4 linked regions of the Homo sapiens genome follow. The protein of the gene in region 1 interacts with the protein of each later gene in a biochemical or structural test. Each region holds a gene or a part of one and is shown in the gene's direction. Other genes may lie near its edges.

Evidence for each region. Proteins that work in one complex are often made in the same cells at the same time.
Region 2: the proteins of CGN (region 1) and CARD11 interact in a test that uses a peptide from one of them, tested with the Homo sapiens proteins (one large-scale study listed by IntAct).
Region 3: the proteins of CGN (region 1) and PDLIM1 interact in a test that uses a peptide from one of them, tested with the Homo sapiens proteins (one large-scale study listed by IntAct).
Region 4: the proteins of CGN (region 1) and MPP7 interact in a test that uses a peptide from one of them, tested with the Homo sapiens proteins (one large-scale study listed by IntAct).

The regions. Positions count from the first base shown.
Region 1 is NC_000001.11:151,516,990-151,521,937, forward strand, and holds part of CGN (cingulin), read left to right. Parts: intron 1-1,516; 5' UTR 1,517-1,530; coding exon 1,531-2,403; intron 2,404-3,176; coding exon 3,177-3,277; intron 3,278-3,424; coding exon 3,425-3,494; intron 3,495-3,606; coding exon 3,607-3,702; intron 3,703-4,948. UniProt on the Homo sapiens protein: Probably plays a role in the formation and regulation of the tight junction (TJ) paracellular permeability barrier.
Region 2 is NC_000007.14:3,036,458-3,041,405, reverse strand, and holds part of CARD11 (caspase recruitment domain-containing protein 11), read left to right. Parts: intron 1-4,948. UniProt on the Homo sapiens protein: Adapter protein that plays a key role in adaptive immune response by transducing the activation of NF-kappa-B downstream of T-cell receptor (TCR) and B-cell receptor (BCR) engagement.
Region 3 is NC_000010.11:95,280,094-95,285,041, reverse strand, and holds part of PDLIM1 (PDZ and LIM domain protein 1), read left to right. Parts: intron 1-4,948. UniProt on the Homo sapiens protein: Cytoskeletal protein that may act as an adapter that brings other proteins (like kinases) to the cytoskeleton. Involved in assembly, disassembly and directioning of stress fibers in fibroblasts.
Region 4 is NC_000010.11:28,292,155-28,297,102, reverse strand, and holds part of MPP7 (MAGUK p55 subfamily member 7), read left to right. Parts: intron 1-4,948. UniProt on the Homo sapiens protein: Acts as an important adapter that promotes epithelial cell polarity and tight junction formation via its interaction with DLG1. Involved in the assembly of protein complexes at sites of cell-cell contact.

The DNA.
Region 1 (4,948 bases):
TCTCTACTAAAAACAAAAATTAGCCGGGCATGGTGGCAGGTGCCTGTAATCCCAGCTACTCGGGAGGCTGAGGCAGGAGAATTGCTTAAACTCGGGAGGCAGAGGTTGCAGTGAACCAAGATCACGCCATTGCACTTCAGCCTGGGCAACAAGAGCAAAACTCTGTCTCAAAAAAAACACAACCTTTTCTTGAATAGATAATACATCTACGTGGTTCCAAATTCAAAAGGGACATAAGAGATATACAGTAGAATGTCCACTCCTTTCTGCTCTTCCAGAGAATAGAAACTCTCCCATCCCTGTTCCTAGTCCTCAGTTCCTCCACCTCAAAGGCATCACTGCTATCAGTGTTTTTAAGTTTCTTTCCAGAAGTGGGATGATATACTTTGAGGTCTTCTATATTTTAAATGAGCTCTGGGAGAGAAGGCCCCCTTTTCTCCAGTGAGATGGAGGTATCTGCTCAGCAGGGTGTGGGTTCTGCCTTCCCTTGGTGGGAGGAAGGGAAGAAGGCACACAGTGTTTTTTTTTTTTTTTTTTGGAGATAGAGTTTTGCTTTTGTCACCCAAGCTGGAGTGCAGTGGCGCAATCTCGGCTCACTGCAACCTCCACCTCCCGGGTTCAAGCAATTCTTCTGCTTCAGCCTCCTGAGTAGCTGGGATTACAGGCATGCGCCACCACGCCTAGCTAAGTTTTTGTATTATTAGTAGAGACAAGGTTTCACCGTGTTGGTCAGGCTGGTCTTGAACTCCTGACCTCAGGTGATCCACCTGCCTCAGCCTCCCAAAGTGCTGGGATTATAGGCATGAGCCACTGTACCTGGCCACATGGTGGTATTATATGTATGTATGAAGATCAAGTAAAATCTTTTTTTTTTTTTTTGAGACAGGGTCTCACTCTGTCACCCAGGCTGGAGAACAGTGGCATAATCACTGCTCACTGCAGCCTCTCTCAAGCTCAAGTGATCCTCCCACCTCAGCCTCCCAAGTAGCTGGGATTACAGGTGTGCACCACCAGGCCCAGTTTATTTTTGTATTTTTTGTAGAGATGGGGTTTCACCATGTTGCCCGGACTGGTCTTGAACTCCTGAGCTCAAGCAGTCCACCCGCCTTGGCCTTCCAAAGTGGTGGGATTACAGGTGTGAGCCACTGCTCCTGGCCATCAAGCAAAATCTTTAAACTTTTAACAAAGCCTAGCTCCCCAGGGCTGTATCAGAGGAAGTGGATTCTTTTAGGTTAGTGAGTCTCAAAGTGTGGTACCTGGACCAGTAGCATCAGTATCACCTGGGGAACTTGGTTAGAAATGCAAATTCTCAAGTCCTAACCCAGACCTACTGAATCAGAAGCTCTGGAGGTTAGGTCCAGCAACCGGTATGTTAAAAGGCTCTCCAGGGGCCTTCTGTTAGTCTGAGAATCAGTGGTTTATCTAGTAGGAACTGACAGGGAAGTCAGCCCGCAGGTAGAAGTTTCATAGTTTCTAGTGAAGTCTCTCAGCCTAAACTCATTTCTTCATCTTCTAGGACTCCTCCTATTTATGGAGCAGGCACCCAACATGGCTGAGCCCCGGGGCCCCGTAGACCATGGAGTCCAGATTCGCTTCATCACAGAGCCAGTGAGTGGTGCAGAGATGGGCACTCTACGTCGAGGTGGACGACGCCCAGCTAAGGATGCAAGAGCCAGTACCTACGGGGTTGCTGTGCGTGTGCAGGGAATCGCTGGGCAGCCCTTTGTGGTGCTCAACAGTGGGGAGAAAGGCGGTGACTCCTTTGGGGTCCAAATCAAGGGGGCCAATGACCAAGGGGCCTCAGGAGCTCTGAGCTCAGATTTGGAACTCCCTGAGAACCCCTACTCTCAGGTCAAGGGATTTCCTGCCCCCTCGCAGAGCAGCACATCTGATGAGGAGCCTGGGGCCTACTGGAATGGAAAGCTACTCCGTTCCCACTCCCAGGCCTCACTGGCAGGCCCTGGCCCAGTGGATCCTAGTAACAGAAGCAACAGCATGCTGGAGCTAGCCCCGAAAGTGGCTTCCCCAGGTAGCACCATTGACACTGCTCCCCTGTCTTCAGTGGACTCACTCATCAACAAGTTTGACAGTCAACTTGGAGGCCAGGCCCGGGGTCGGACTGGCCGCCGAACACGGATGCTACCCCCTGAACAGCGCAAACGGAGCAAGAGCCTGGACAGCCGCCTCCCACGGGACACCTTTGAGGAACGGGAGCGCCAGTCCACCAACCACTGGACCTCTAGCACAAAATATGACAACCATGTGGGCACTTCGAAGCAGCCAGCCCAGAGCCAGAACCTGAGTCCTCTCAGTGGCTTTAGCCGTTCTCGTCAGACTCAGGACTGGGTCCTTCAGAGTTTTGAGGAGCCGCGGAGGAGTGCACAGGACCCCACCATGCTGCAGGTCAGACCCAGCCCCTCCCTGACTTCTAAATGTCAGCCCCTTCTCCCTTCTCATCAGCTTTTACCCACCAGCCATGAGCCTCCTTGCTAATTCAAATAGCCTAGGCAGAAACTCTCTGCCTTTTGTTCTCTACTGTATCTGTCCACAAAATAGGTGATATTCACATGCACAGGATATTTCCATGGGTAAAATTCTAAAGAAAATGGAGCAAGCTATAAAATCACTATTCACAAGTTTGGACCTAGTTGTCATTGCCACAACCATTAACTATGGCTCAGTCACCAGCATTTGCAAGGTCTGCAGAATATGTAAGGCGGGCTTGGAGGATAAGAGCAGTTTCCTTGGTGCTCTTGCCAAAATTCCACACCTTTCTCTCCTACTCAGGAATGTAAGTAAGTGAGGGAGTGACTTTACTTTGAGAGAAACGTAAGTCTGTTTTAAAAGTAAATTATTTATAAACTCTAGCATGTTAACTACCATTAGTGACAAATCACTTGTGGCACAGTTTGCAGCTGGTTGAGATGTTTGTTGAGGAAAATCTGGTTTACAGCAACAGTGCAGAGGTGCATCCTGTGTTGGCCTCTCCCTGGCCTGTTGCTCAGGCCTCCACAGCATGTTTTCCTTGCTGCATTTCAGGATTGTTCATCATGCTTGAAGGGACTTGACCTGAGACTGCCACTTCTCCTCCATCTGAACCCCACGCATGCTTCTGGCCTAATCTTCCTATTTCTTTCTTTCTTTCTTTTTTTTTTCTTTTTCTTTTTTTTTAACAGTTCAAATCAACTCCAGACCTCCTTCGAGACCAGCAGGAGGCAGCCCCACCAGGCAGTGTGGACCATATGAAGGCCACCATCTATGGCATCCTGAGGGAGGGGTGAGTGGGGGCCCCCCCAACAACAGAGGCATACCCCTCCTTCTTTTTCTTCTAGCTTTGTTTCCCATCTTCCCTGATTTTACCCTTTCCTGATCTCTGCTACCTCTTTCCTCCCCTAACCCTTGCTTCTATCCTTTTATCCTCTAGAAGCTCAGAAAGTGAAACCTCTGTGAGGAGGAAGGTTAGTTTGGTGCTGGAGAAGATGCAGCCTCTAGTGGTGAGTGGCCTTCTCTGGATGGGAGCAAGGGTCAAGGTTAGAGCTTTGAGGGCCTCAGGGGATCCAGACTTGGACTCACTCCCTTCCCCCACACCCCCCATATCTCTGGCAGATGGTTTCTTCTGGTTCTACTAAGGCCGTGGCAGGGCAGGGTGAGCTTACCCGAAAAGTGGAGGAGCTACAGCGAAAGCTGGATGAAGAGGTGAAGGTAAGGAAAGGTTAGAGGTGCCGGAGGCATGAAGGAAAACAGGGAAAAAGCCTTGGCCTGGAGATGGGCTGAGCTGACCCTTCTAAGCAATGGAACAAGCATGTTTGTGTCTTATGAGACAAGAGACAAGAATGTGTACTAATTCCAGGAAGGACTTCTGGGGTTCTGTGGGGGTTAGGGAGGCAGAGCACATTAGGAATCTACCTACCTTCCATTCCACTCCCTTTGGGAGTTCCCATCCTGGCTCTGCCCCTTACTAGCTATATAAAACTTAAGAAAATTACTTACATTCTCTGTGCCTCAATTTTTTTTTATCATTATCATAATAATGGCAATAGTAGTAGCTATCATTTATTGAGTATAATTTTGGTAGTATGTACTGTCCTGGGTACTGTAATCATTATAGTTACCCTGTGAATACCTATTCTGGACCCTTTTCTGATGAGAAAACTGAAGATCAGAGAGGCTAAGTAAATTGCCTATGGTAGTAAGTTGCAGAGAGGAATGAAAAAATCCGGGTCAGTCTTATTCTAAAGCCAGTGTACCCTTTTTAAAAACATGTCTTCTGCCTTTCATCATATTGGTTTGTGTGTAGTTGGTGCTCAATAAATGTTGGATTGTAACTTCCCTTGTCTTTTGGAAATCACTGTAGTGTAATGATTAAGTGATTGGCTGTGGAGCCAAACTAACTGGGTTCAAATCCTGGTTCTGTTACTTGTTGGCTGTGTAACTGACCTTGGGCAAGTTCTTTAAATGTTCTAAGCCTCTGTTTCCTAAATTGTAAAGTGGGGATTATGATAGTACTATATTAATTAACTATTGCTGTGTAACAAATTACCCAAAACTCAATAGCTTTAAACAAACATTTCCCAGCCGGGCGCAGTGGCTCACACCTGTAATCCTTTGGGAGGCTGAGGCAGGCAGATCACCTGAGGTTGGGAGTTTGAGACCAGCCTGACCAACATGGAGAAATCCTGTCTCTACTAAAAATACAAAATTAGCCTGGTATGGTGGCACATGCCTGTAATCCCAGCTACTTGGGAGGCTGAGGCAGGAGAATTACTTGCACCCGGGAGGTGGAGGTTGTGGTGAGCTGAGATCCTGCCATTGCACTCCAGCCTGGGCAACAAGAGTGAAACTCTTTCTCAAAAAAAAAGCATTTCCCAGAGTCTGAGGATGAAGAACCTGGGATCAGCTTAACAGGGTAATTGTGGCTCTGAGCCTGTTATAAGGTTCCAGTCCAGCT
Region 2 (4,948 bases), on another chromosome or scaffold:
GAGACACACATGAGATGGTAAAGAATTAGGAGGAGTGGGAAGGGCAGCAGGGAGTGAGCTTGGGTGATGGTAGGACTCAGAAGGTCCAGGGATTCCTGGAAGGTTCCAGGCCGAGATGGTGCTGAAAATCTCAGGGAGGAAGGGCATCCCCACCAAAAGGGGGTGTGGAGCTGGGAGATGGGACAGGACAGCCACCTGTGGACACTGTACTAGGAAGGGGTTGGCAGGGTCACAAGAGGGCGCCCAGGTTCTAGGAGTCCAGGGGTTCGAGACCAGCCTGGGCAACATGGCGGGACCTTGTCTCTACAAAAAATACCAAAAAATTAGCCAGACATGGTGGTGTGCAGCTGTAGTCCCAGCTACTTGGGAGGCTGAGGCAGGAGGATCATTTGAGCCTGGGATGCGGAAGTTGCCGTGAGCTAAGATGGCGCCACTGCAGTCCAGCTTGGGCTACAGAGCAAGGCCCTGTATCAAAAAAAAAAAAAAAAAAAAAAAGAGGGGCAGTGTCTGGACTTCTTTATCCTATGCAGTGATTCTGGACCCTTCCGATAAAAGGCTTGCTTCCTGGGACTGAGGGGCTGTGTGACTGTGGCTTGGTGGTGGCTGGCAGAGGCCGTGGAGTTGAAGACGCACTTGTGATTGTAGCTCCTCATAGCATGTCGGGCATGAAAGGCCAAATAGGGTCCCGATTTTCAGATGATGATGATGAAAAGGCGTGTCAAATGCTGAAAAATGGAGCCTCTTCGAATCCATTTTAAAAACCGCCTTTAGGCACGGTGGCTCACACCTGTAATCCCAGCACTTTGGGAGGCGGAGGCAGGCGGATCGCTTGAGGTCAGGAGTCTGAGACCAGCCTGGGCACCATGGTGAAACCCCATCTCTACTAAAAATACAAAAATTGGGCAGGCGCCTGTAATTCCAGCTACTCGGGATGCTGAGGCAGGAGAATCGCATGAACCTAGGAGGCAGAGGTTGCAGTGAGCTGAGATTGCCCCACTGCACTCTAGCCTGGGCAACAGAGTGAGACTCTGTCTCCAAAAAAGGAAAAAAAAAAAAAAAACAAAAAAAACAAAAAAACACTTTCCATTCCCTCTTGGCCAGGCCCTGCACTATCTGCTTTGCAGGCAGCGCCTCCAGCAGCATTCCGTCTTTTGGGTTGGAGCCCATGAAGGCATGGGTTTGAGGCATGACTACTGATCTGTGCTAGCCGTGTGACCTTAGACAGGCTTCCCGTCACCTAAGCTCTCTGAGAGTCATTTCTCTAATGAAATCAGGATATCAATACTGGTTATTTTCAGTATTGTCAGTTACACCAAGCATAAAATGAGAAAATGCGGCATATGAGCTAGGACTACCTTTGCCGTGATGACTAAGGTCTGGAGCAGATCAGAGGTTGGACCCTGGAGTCCAGACCCAGGGCTGCAGTGCCGGTATCCCCGCAAACACCAGCTGGATGGACCTCGTTACTTTTTTCTGGTGCAACCTCAGATTCCTTATCTGCAATCTCAATCTTACGGGGGAATTATGAGGCCCAAGGAAATCACAGACCGAGCTGATGCTCCGTCAATCTACCCTGTAGAAAAACCCTCACTCTTGGTGGTGGCAGTACCCAATCAGTCTAGAAAATAGCTTGATTGGCTGGGCACGGTGGCTCATGGCTGTAATCCCAGCACTTCGGGAGGCCAAGGAGGAGGATCGCTTGAGTCCAGGAGTTCCAGACCAGCCAGCCTGGGCAACGTGATGAGACCATGTCTCTACAAAAAAAATACTAAAAAATTAGCCAGGCATAGGGGTCTCTCCTTACTTGGGAAGCTGAGGCAGGAGGATCATTTGGGTCTGGGATGCAGAAGTTGCAGTGAGCCGAGATCACACCACTGCGCTCCAACTTGGGCGACAGAGCGAGACCCTGTCTCAAACAAAAAAAAACGAAAAAAAGAAAGGAAATATTTTGATCGATTGATTGAAATACAGAAACAAAAAGAGAAGGAAAAGAGAACCTTCGAGGGAGCCCCTTAAACATGCTCTTCTGCCAAAGAAAAATTAGAAGGCAGCTGGGCGTGGTGGCTCACGCCTGTAATCCCAGCACTTTGGGAGGCCGAGGTGGGCAGATTGCCTGTGTTCAGGAGTTCGAGACCAGCCTGGCCAACATGGTGAAACTCTGTCTCTACTAAAAATACAAAAAAAATTATGCCAGGGTGGTGGCGGGCGCCTGTAATCCTAGCTATTCGGGAGGCTGAGGCAGGGGTATTGCTTGAACCACGGAGGCGGAGTTTGCAGCGAGCCGAGATCGTGCCACTGCACTCCAGCCTGGGCAACAGAGCGAGACTCCGACTCAAAAAAAAAAAAAAAAAGAAAAGAATAAAAATTAGAAGGCACAGATTCCAGATGCCAGCCTCTTCCTGTGGCAGGCCACATAAGAAAATCACGGCCAGGGCACTGCACGCTCCATACAAAGAACACGCCCCATGCCTTGTCTGCGTTCTCTCCTTGAGGGACTGCCGCTCTCTGGGTCAGTGGTTTTAATGGGGTGATTATTTTCGGGAGGGTAACCTTTTGGGTTGTGATTTGTTCAAGGGCTCAGAGATTATAATGGTTGCTGTCACATTTCTGTAATAGGTGTTGGTGGCCGAGAGCCAGAGGGTGATAAAAGTCCTTCCAGTCCCATCTGTGTGGCTGTCACTTCTTCTTCCCCTGTCCTGCTACTCCAAGCACAGTCATTCCTCCAAAGTGCTGGGTTCCTCCTGGCCCAGCCGGGGCCATTCCTTAGTGGGCATTATTCTTGCAAGTGTGAGAGCCAGAGAGGGGCATGTGTAGTATCCATGCTCACAAACAGGGCTCCATCCTCCTTTGTGTGGTTTCTGTGTCTAGCATGTCATCTTCCTTCCTGCCCCTCTGCAACTGAGGAATTTGCTGTCTTTATACCCAAGTATCACAGCAGCAGAATGGGGGCTGCCCCATGCCATGTCCTCGGTCATGGTGGTATCAAAGGCAACACCTGCCAGGACAATGCTGGTTATGATTTCTGCCGTCCCCTGGGACTGGCCTCATTCCTTAAGAGGCAAGATTAAAAAAAAATAAAAAGCCAGGCACGAGGGCTCATGCCTATAATCCCAGCACTCCAGCACTTTGGGAGGCCAAAGCGGAGGATTGCTTGAACTCAGGAGTTCGAGACCAGCCTGGGCAACATAGCGAGACCCCATCTCTACAAAAAATTTAAAAATGAGGCAGGTATGGAGGTATGCGCCTGTGGTTCCAGCTACTCAGGAGGCTGAGGTGGGAGGATTGCTAGAGCCCAGGAAGTTGAGGCTGCAGGGAGCCGTGATTGCACCACTGCACTCCAGCATGGGCAGCAGAGTAAGAACCTGTCTCAAAAAAAAAAAAAAAAAAAGGCAAACCTGCTTTCTGGAGAGATCTACAGACTTAGAGCCTGACAGACAAGGTGCCCATTCCGGCTCCACTGCCTGCAATCTCGGTGACCCCAACAAAGTCACATGATGATTTTGAGCCTCAATTGCTGCACGTGTAAAATGGGTATAAAATTACCACCCCTAGCTGGGCACAGTGGGTCACACCTGTAATCCCAGCACTTTGGGAGGCCGAGGCGGGCAGATCATCTGAGGTCAGGAGTTTGAGATATGGCAAAACCCCGTCTCTACTAAAAGTACAAAAATTAGCCAGGCATGGGGGTGAGCACCTGTAATCCCAGCTACTCGGGAAGCTGAGGCGGGAGAATCACTTGAACCCGGGAAGTAGAGGTTGCAGTGAGCCACGATTGTGCCACTGTACTCCAGCCTGGCCAACAGAGCAAGACTCTATCACAAATTAATAATAATAATGATACCACCCCTAGATTAGCATAGACCAAAGTGTTTCCAAACGCACCAAATGTGTCAAGGGGTTCTGCAGGCTTCTGCTTTTAAGTTTTACTTCTGACTTGCTTATTCAGAGGCCAGGAGGGAGAACAGAGAGAGATGAGCTAAATGCAAAACAGAGTATATGTGGCAAAGAGCTATTTCCTTAATTTACTAAGAACTCTTGTAAACCAATGAGACATGGGAACTGGCACACTTTTTCTCGAAAGCTCCAAATAGTAAATATTTTAGGCCTTGTGAGCCAGAGGGTCTCTGTCGAAGCTAGCAACTCTGTCCTTGCGGGGTGGAGGCGGCTGCAGTTGGGAGTGAGTATGGCCACCTTCGGCACAGTGGATGGCACAGGACTGGACCCTCAGTGGGAGTGTCCAGACCCCAAAATTAGAGAATTCAACCAATGGAAAAAATGGTGAAAGGGTACAAACACACGGAATATGAGCAGGTCAGTCAGCATGCTTCGTTTGTAATTAAATCCATGTGAAGTAATACAACAGGGACATAGCGTTTTCCACCTGTCAGACTGGCAAACATCAAAAAGTTTGATAGGCCAGGCGTGGCACCTCTCACCTGTGATCCCAACACTTTGGGAAGCCCAGGTGGAAGGATCACTTCAGCCTAGGAGTTCGAGACCAGCCTGGGCAACATAGTGAGATCCCACCTCTACAAAAAAACTTTAAAAAATTAGCCAGGCATGGTGACACACACCTGTAGTAGTCCCAGCTCCTCCAGAGGCTGAGATGGGAGGATCACTTGAGCCCAGGAGTTTGAGGCTGCAGTGAGCTAGGATTGCACTACTGTACTCCAGCCTGGGCAGTAGAACAAGACCCCATCTCTAAAAATAAAATAAAAAAGAAAGGTAAAACTGATTGCCCATCAGTAATAATAATAATAATAATTTTTAAAAATTAAGGTATAACACACACACAGTACAGTCTTAAGCGTACAAACAGCTTGACGGGCCTTCACATGCCCTTCTGGAGCCAATCACCCAGATCAAGATTTGGGTCCTTTCTAGGTTCTGGGGAAGTGCCATATCCCCTCCCAGTCGTTACCCCTCCCCTGTCCCCTAAGGGAGGACC
Region 3 (4,948 bases), on another chromosome or scaffold:
GTGAACAGTTCCACCTTGCGGTAGCCAAGCTAAGTCCAAAACCGAATATACCCATGAAACCTAAGACAAAAAAGGTAATTCCTGTATGGCTGTTAGCACCCTGTGTGATTATTGATACTCTTGTTAGCCACATCCTGGGCAAATTGGGCTGCTCATCCGTGGCTGAGTTCTGTGGTGCACTTTCCCATGTGTAATACACTGTCTCCTTGGTAAATGCCATAAATACTAAAAATGATTTTGTGAAGAACACAGCGGTCTTGTAGGAGGCCAGATTCCTTACTGAACACTCAGGGACTAATTTTTATAGACACGACCATTCGTATCAAGTAAGACAATAAGAACATAGATAGGACCTAGTTTAGATAAAGATATTGAAAATGCATACAGAGGCTGGGCTTGGTGGCTTATGTCTGTAATCCCAGCACTTTGGGAGGCCAAGGTGGGTGAATCACCTGAGGTCAGGAGTTTGAGGCCAGCCTGGCCAACATGGTGAAACCCTGTCTCTACTAAAAATTCAAAAATTAGCCAGGCGTAGTGGCAGGCACCTGTAGTTCCAGCTACTCAAGAGGCTGAGGCAGGAGAATTGCTCTAACTTGGGAGGCGGAGGTTGCAGTGAGTTGAAATCACGCCACTGCACTCCAGCCTGGGCAACAAGAGCGAAACTCCATCTAGAAAAAAAAAATGCATACAGATAGATTAAATATGGTTGATGCAGCAAATAGTTTGCACCCATTTCTTTAAAAAAATAATAAAAAATACTTATGCTTCTGAAGCTGAGCATACCCATACCATATAACCCAACAGTTCTCCTAGTTAAATAGTCAATAGAAACTGGGTCCACATGAGTGCTAAAGGACAAGTTTGAGAATTTTCCAAGCAACACTATTCATAATAGCCCCAAATTTGAAACGATTCACATGTCTAACAGCAATAGAATAGATAAGTAGTGGGTGTAATTATATGGTATAAAACATCACAGCAACAAGAGTGAAGAAATTACAACTATGCACAGTGACATGAAGGAGACACACACACACACACACACACACACACACACACAGAGAAAAAGGCCATACCTAAGAGTGAAGAGTAAATACTGTGTGATTCCAGTTACATAAAATTAGACAGAATTAATCTACAGTGTTAGCAGTCAGGATCATGGCAGACCTTTGCCGGAAGGTCAGTGACGGAAGGCGGGCACAGGGAGGTTTAGCAGTTCAGGTAATGTCCTCTTCTTTATCCCATGCTGTTTCCTTGGGTGTGCTCTGTATGTGAGAATTCAATCAGCTGTATCGTTACCATTTGTGCTGTATACATGTCATCCTTCAGTAAAGGTTACATAGAAGCCCGCGTAATTGTTTAAAAGATCGGACAATATAAACCTACAGAAAGCATAAGGTAAAAGGCTTCCCCAGTCTTACTTTACAGAGGTAAACACAGTGAACAGCTGGCTGCAAACCTTTCCAGACTTTTTCCGCACACGTAGCATTTCTAAAACCAAATTACTATATCTCAGTGAACTATTGGGACTTCATTGCTTTGTGCTTTCTGCCTTATTTTTACTGTAACAAATCAAGAATTAAAGACATCTTAATGTCAAGGGAAAAATACATTTTTGATATCTGCTAGATCTAGTTCAAACCTTATCTTGTCCATTTACTAGCTTGTATGTTCTTGGACAGGTTAACCCCTGAAAATTCAGTGTCCTCATTTGCAATGTGGGAATAATAGCGCTTGTCTTCAAAGGTTGTGGTGAGGATTAAGATGATATATAGAGAGAGCCTAGTGGTACTATTAAACTATTAAATATTAAAAATATTAATGGTAGCTACTATATATTGAGTGTTTATTACGTGCCAGGCATTGTTCTGAACTCTTTACAAATGCAGTCTCATTTAAGCCTTCCAGCAACCTGATGAGGTTGATGCATTATAAATTTCATTTGATAAATGAAGATACTGAGTCAGAGAGAGTAATTCCCTCAAGGTTTAGTGAGTGTTTAGGCTTTGGGTTATGGGTGGTAGCTGTTGGAGCTATTTAAAAGCACGTAGGGTTCATAGGAGCTTGTTTGGAAACTTTTGAGGAACTCGACGACTTCTTGACGGAGTCTCGCTCTGTCGCCTGGGCTGGAGTGCAGTGGCATGATCTCGGCTCATTGCAACCTCCATCTCCTGGGTTCAAGTGATCCTCCCACCTCAGCCTCCCAAGTAGCTGAGATTACAAGCGTGCGCCATCACACCTGGCTAATTTTTTGTATTTTTAGTAGAGATGGGGTTTCACCATGTTGGTGAACAGGCTGGCCTTGAACTCCTGACTTCAAGTGATCCGCCCATCTCGGCCTCCCAAAGTGCTGGGATTACCGGCATGAGCCACCACGCCTGGCCTCGATGACTTCTTAAGAATTTAGTCAGAGTATTCTATTTGGCTACCTGTTTTATTATATTCCTGTCTGAGAAATGGTGGTCGGTCTTTCAGACTGAGAGAGCAGCACGTCTCTTTGAACTGTCACCCCTTAGCACTAATAACTTCTTTTTGCACCATGCATAGTGTGAAGCTGGATTAAGGTGCAACTTATCTACAAGCATCTACCCTATTTTATTGCCTCATTTCCCTGAGAAAATGGTTATAGACTAACCAAGAACATTTTAAAACAGTGTTATGTTTTCAGGTCACCCTGTGTAAATGCATACAGCTTCTGCAGCCATAATATGGCTGTGAAGTCTGTGCCACAGCCTCGGCTCACAAACATACTGAGTCAGAAGATTCTGACTAAAGAGAGTTCAAATTCCACATGTAAATGGCATCCTACAGAGCTGGGTCCTGCTTTATCCCCAGTTTAGAATCTGTTAAATTTGTACCCAAATACCTTGACACAACTGTTAAATCAGCGGAGATTATGCTTAAAGGCATGTAGCATTGCGATTGAACTTGAATCTCACATTTCTTTATCCCAGTTGTATATAATTATTACTATCGTTATTTAGGCTGTCTCTTTCACTTACTTGCAGGCTTGTCTTAGGCTTGTCTTTCACTTAGTTACACATTTACAATATTTAAAACACAAGAACACATATAAGATTTAACAAAAAATTGGAACATGGAAGAGGAAAGAGAGAGAAGTGCCAGGAACTTTAAATCAGTTGGTTCTGTAATTGCACACTACATTTAGCTGTGAGTTTTCTGGCCAAGGGAAAATAGGACCCACGTCGAGTTATTTAGATATCTTGTTTGGAGTTATTATACTTCTACTGGTTGGACGCAGTGGCTCATGCCTGTGAAACTAGCACTTTGGAAGGCCGAGGTGTGAGGATTGCTTGAGGCCAGGAGTTCAAGACCACCTTGGCCAACACAGTGAGACCCCATCTCTATTTAAAAAAAACAACAAAATTACTTATGCAATGCTTCATTTGCATAGCATTTTCAGGGGTGTTAACCAACATTACAGGGGCTGTATTTTTTTGTTTGTGTTTTGTTTGAGACAGCATCCTGCTCTATTGCCCAAGCTGGAGTGTAGTGGTGCTATCATAGCTAACTGCAGCCTCCACTTCCTCCCAGTTTAAGCGATCCTTCCACCTCAGTCTCCTTGAGTAGCTGGGACTACATGCCTGGCTAATTTTTAATTTCTTGTTCAGACAGGGTCCCACTGTGTTGCCCGGACTAGTTTCAAGATCCTGGGCTTAAGCAGTCTTCCTGCTGTGGCCTCCCAAAGTACTGGGATTATAGGCATGAGCCATCCCTGCCTGGCCTATTTTTTTTTTTTTAAGTCTGTTTTGGTAAGAGATAGAGGAATACTATTCTAATGGATATTCCTTTCAAGGGCTTTGTATGTATTTTATAGGAGTATAAGTTCTGCCCTTGAAGGTGTTTCTGGAGGAGCTGAGATTTTAGGGTCTAATTACTTTTTGTCTACCTGATGACTTTAACTTCATTCAGGGAGAGAGTTTAAGGGGAAAAGATAGTCATAGTCATCATCTCTCTTGGTGTTTCCAAACCTGATGAGCATTAACATTTTCTGGGAAGCTTTAAAAAGGTATGGGTTCTTGGGTTTCACTGTATAGGCTGTCTTTGGTGGATCTGAGATGGGTTGTGGAGCTCTATCTATATTTTGAATCCCTGCCCCCATGGGATCTGATGACCAACCTGTTTGAAAACCATTGCCTCATCCTTGCAAATATCACAGTTGGCTGAGTATTGGTGAGTGGGGTTGATTTCTGGCCTGAGGTTTAGAGCCAACTCCAAGGGGCAAGGTTAACAACGTTCCATAAAGAGTCAGGAAATTGACCTGTAGTCCTGTCCACAAATAAGCCTTCTGAATAGACACGGTTTTTCCCTCAAGAAAAAGAAAAAAATAAAACAAAGCAAAAACCTCTGCCTGAGAACCATTTAAACCATTTGACAAATATTTGGTTAAAACCCCCACCTCTGTCAAAAAGGCAACAGTACTGTTTATTATCCAGGCTGGAGTACTTCTGCGAATGAAATGGGGTGGTCTTGATAGTTAAGCTGTTTTGGGCAAATCAGGGCATTTGGTAATCCTAGTCATAAAGTATTTCTACATATAATCATGCTTTCCATAACTTTTAAACTGAGCCAGTGGTCACAAACTCATTTGTATCAAGGGGCTAGGAGGCAACACAAGAGTTTTTAAATTTTTTTTTAATTTTTTGGAGATGGAATCTCGCTCTGTTGCCCAGGCTGGAGTGCAGTGGGGTGATCTTGGCTCATTGCAACCTCTGCCTCCCCGGTTCAAGTGATTCTCCTGCCTCAGCCTCCTGAGTAGCTGGGATTACAGGCACCTGCCACCACCTGGCTAATTTTTTGTATTTTTAGTAGAGACGGGGTTTTGCCATGTTGGCCAGGCTGGTCTTGAACTCCTGACCTCTAGTGATCCACCCACCCTGGCCTCCCAGAGAGCTGGGATTACAGGTGTGAGCCACCATGCCTGGCC
Region 4 (4,948 bases), on another chromosome or scaffold:
TGTGATATCTTCAAGGTATGCCTACGATTTCAGAAATAACCTCTCCTATTGAACCCTCTGATTCTTCCTGTGTTCAGAAACCCAGACCAAAGTGTAGATTTATTGGTCTTTATTTATGAGTAGTTGAATTTTTTTAATGTCTTGTGTTTTGTTTAAATTTTATGTAAACTGCGGCTTAGCTCTTTCAGCATAGTCTTATGCTTTGCTTTCTTAGATTACTGAGTCTTTAAAAGAACTGGTAAAGTGCATATGTGTGGAAAGATTATTTGCTACCTACTATGAACAGATACTTAAGTAAAAAAACAAAAACAAAAAAACCCAAGATGTTTTTTCCAGGCATATAAATGTTTTTTTCTTGAAGAGGCATTTAGTCTTTCTATTTACTAGAACATTATCAGCTTGCTTTACTTATGAAAGAGAGGAGACCATTCTTTTCTCTGTGAATTTAGGAGCTATTTGTCAGGCTTGTTTATTACTGATTGGGTTGCTTGTTACTGATTGTTAGAGAAGGGAGATGAAAATACATAGCAGTTGCGATATCCATTTTGGGTATAGAACTGGCAATGTTAGTGGAGATTAAAGACTAGCTGGTACGACTGCATTTTGCAAGATATTTTGAAGACAACTTTGGACTTTGAAAATGCAGGATAGGAATCTAAGTGAGAAAGTCTTTCAGTGGTTGGGGTGTGTGTGTGTTCACTTCAGTTGCACTGAACTGTGGGTGGGGAGGAGAGCAATAGTAAATTGTTTCTTACCAGAACACTGCCAGTTCTTAGGGGATTTGGTGGAGATTTGGGAGAGAGAAAATAAATAGGATTCAGCCCTTCTAGGAAGGTCATTCTTGGCAGTGCCTTCAGCCCTTAGGAGAGCGTGGGCATGGAAAAGGTGGGTGGTTGTAAGTAGCCAGGCAGATTAAAAGGCTGCTTCCTAGAGTTTTCTTTACCTTTGATGACCTTAATCAGGTCATTAAGCATTTTAAGACAGGTTTATAGCTCTCCTGTGGTCCAAGCTTGGACTAAGTACTCCTTAATCTTCAATTTTATGTTTTAAATTTTTGGAATAAGTAGAAACCTGAAATTTATAAAATTAATGACTTGAGTATGCGAGTGAATAGCTTCAGAGAGTTATTTGGCTTATGGAAGATTTCAGATTATGGTAGGTGCTTGAATATACTTATTTCTCATACTCTTTCTTCCATCCCTTTAACAACAAAAAAAGGCCTTATTAGAAATAGGCAAACTTGAATACACATAGAGCTGTACTGCTCAAATTGAGTACTTGAGTTGGGGAGAAAAGTCTCCCGGTCTAGATATAGCTTTGAAAAGAGAAGGATCAGGTAGGATGCCGTACACGGCAGGTGTGTGCAGGGACAGGGATAACGTTAACCCCTTTTGCTGTGAATATTGTCAGAGGGTCTGATGTGTAATTAGGCATTCCTTAGCTTCACTCCTGATAAAAACACACTCTTGGACAGTTTCTCTGTATGTGCACTTAAAGCAGTTTGAATCTTGTTAATCAAATATTTCTCGGGGTTGTAACTTCTTTTTTTGGCATTGGGAAGACTGTTGAAGTCATGTTGTAAAAATTTGGAGTTGAGCCTGGGATCAAAATTTGGAGTTATGGCCCAAGATTTATCAAGCTTCTGCTGATATTCAAAATATTGTTTTTTTCTCTTCCTATTATGGCTTCTGATTACTTCTGAAGAGTGAGTTCAGACCTCTGTGCTCTAACGCTCATCAGAGTACCCTTTTTGTACATAGTATAATCAGGATAGAGATTAGGCATTTTGTCAAGTTTGGGAGAAAGAAGTTGAGCAGTGAGGAAATGAACTAACACTGTTTTCGTTTCTTCATAGTCATTTTAAATAGGATACAAATTTTATATTTTAGAAGTTTCAAAATGGTAGTAATTTCACCTTTCACATTATGCTTAGTATGAAAAATTTCTACCAGTGGTTCTCAAACTTTAGCATACCTTGGGATCACACGGAGGGCTTGTGAAACCTTAGGCAGCTGCCTTCCAGCCCCAGAATTTCTGATCAGTCGGTCTGGGAGGGGAGGTCCTGGCGATTTGCATTTCTAATAAGTTCTAAGGCCATGTGCTACAGCCACTGCAGGGGCCAGCCACTCTAGGGGGAAACGTAAGTGTAGTGGTTAACACTTTGAAAGACCTGGGTTTGAATCTCTGCTCTGCTGCTTTCTAGTACTTTGACTTTAGGCAAGTTTCTTAACCTCTGTTGTTCCGTCTCTAAAGTGGAAATAATATAGTATTTTGTTGTGAATGTAAGTGGGCTCCAATGTGTAGAAGCTCAGGGAACAGGGCCTTGCAGATTGCAAGCATGCAATAAATGTTTTCTTTTATCCATAAAAACAGTACGTATATAAAATAAATAGGATCCTGCATCTTATACAATTGAAGCAAAGACAGAAAATTTAATACTTAACCTCATTTCCTGGCACTGTGCTGGGGAAAAAATATGATTACTCAATTACTTTTTAAGGAGTGAAGGAAAAGTTTGTGGATCCTAGTAATTTTCCAGAAACATTTTTTAGAGGCATAGCACATTCATATCGATGCTGCCTCCTCCCTCTTCCCCTTCAAAAAGTTTGCATTCTTTAATCACCGTATGTTGGACTCTCACAATAACCCTTATAGTTTACATTTTATATAACAGGTATTTTGAAGGTTGCTTCTGGGAGCTGAATGACAGGAAGTACCTGAAAGTCATCTTTAGAACACACTGTCGCCTGTACTATGACAACTTTGTATTTGATGACCTTGAACGCAGTTCTTCTCGAGACGGAGTCTTGCTCTGTCCCCCAGGCTGGAGTGCAGTGGTGTGATCTCAGCTCACTGCAGGTTCCACCTCCCGGCTTCACGCCATTCTCCTGCCTCAGCCTCCAGTTTAAAACATATTTAAACTGGACTACAGGCACCCGGCTAATTTTTTTGTATTTTTAGTAGAGACAGGGTTTCACTGTGTTAGCCAGGATTGTCTGGATCTCCTGATCTCATGATCCGCCCGCCTCGGCCTCCCAAAGTGCTGGTATTACAGGCGTGAGCCACCACGCCCAGCCCTTGAACGCAATTCTTTGGGATCTCATCTCTCGGCTTGCTGAATGCCTGGTTCATTTTCTTTCTGCAGACCTGCGGGATCTCACCTCTGGCTATCCTTTCATTAGTGAAACCCTCTTTCCATCACTTTCTGTCACTATCACTGTCTTACTTGTTAGCTGTTAACACTCTCTTATCATTATCTTATTTGTTTCCTTTTTATTGTTTCCTTCACTAGGACATAAACCCTATGAGGGTAAGGGCTTGATCTTTTGCTACTCGGTCGCTAGGATGGGATGCAGTTCCTGGTATGTAGAGACTGAATACCTGCTGGTTGGGTGAAGGGACCTGTGACGCGGAGCTGCCCCGCTCCGCTCCCTCCCCAGCTCAGGGGCTCGGACTGGAGTTAGCACTCACTTCATGGCACACTGTCATGATTGGTCCGTGTAGAGTCTCCCACCTTATTTTATTGTATCTTTCCCCTTCATCACCTATCCCCATTCATGTTCTTCCTTGCCCCCAGGGGACCCTCTCTCTGGCATATGCATAATTCCCTTAAGTACGACCAGATTGTTATCTCATTGACACTTTCACCAGCTGTTGCTCCCTGCATTCTTGCTGGCATGTGGCATTTTCTGACCTTATAATTTTTTCCAATCTGATGCAACAGATGGAGCAATCCAGCACAAAGTGATATGTTATTGTTCTTATTTGCAGCTATCTGATTACTAATGCAGTGGAATATCCTATCGTATACTGTGTGTGTTTTTCCTCGGTTGAGTTCGCCATTTATATATCCTTTGCCTCTTTTTCTGTTAGCTTTTCATATCTGTTTCCCATTTTTCTGCCCTAATTTATAGCAGTTTTCTTCTTTTTTCAGTCTCTCGTTGGATTTTAAATGGTATACGCATCTTTTGTTTTTCACCTGTCAGATTTTTTCTTTGAAATCTTTCATTAAACGGAATCTTTAATTTTGTTATGATCCAACCTTTTTTTTTTTTTTTTAACCTTCTGGGTCTTGTGTAGGAAATATTTCTCCATTCCTAGTTAACAAAGTTATGTTTCTGTATTTTCTTCTATGGCAAACGAATTTTCCCAAATCTCATTTACTAAATAACCTAGTGGTTTGTGATGCTACCTGTATCATATGTCAAGATCCACACACTCGTATATATGCACACAGAGACACAGACACACACATTCTCTCTCTCTCACCTTTTTAGGCTCCCTGCTCTGTTCTGATCAATTTGTCTGTTTCTGTTCTAATTTCACAGTGGATTTTGCTTTTATTTTTATTGCTACAACTTGTTTATATATTTTGATATCTAGAAGAATGACTCCCTCCTGTGTTATTTTAAAAACATATTTAAACTGGTAGTTTTCAACCATGGCTTTATATTAGAATTTGCTAGGTAGCTTTTAAAAAAATATGTCCCATTGACCACAGATGAACTGAATTATAATCTCTAGAGAGTGGAGTCTAGCAATTGTATTTTTTAAAATCTCCTCTGGTGACACTGATCTATATCCCGAGTGGAAACCACTTATCAGTGGTATTAATGTTTTATTCAATGGAGGTCAGATTTTTTTTTTTTTTCCGTAATGATCTTGTCTTCTTTGTTACAGTAAGAGACCCTAGTTCAGCTTCTGTTTCTACTGTGAATGCCATTTTTTCTTCTGTTGTATTTTCTATTGTTTATTTCCCCTGGTGTAGGGGAATCCTACATATATCGACAACTATGCATCACTTAACAGGGATATGTTCTGAGAAATGTGTCATTAGGTGATTTCGTCATTGTGTGAACATCGCAGACTGCACTTACACAAATGTAGATAACACAGCCTACTACACACCTAGGTTATATGGTATAGCCCGTTGCTCCTAGGCTACAAA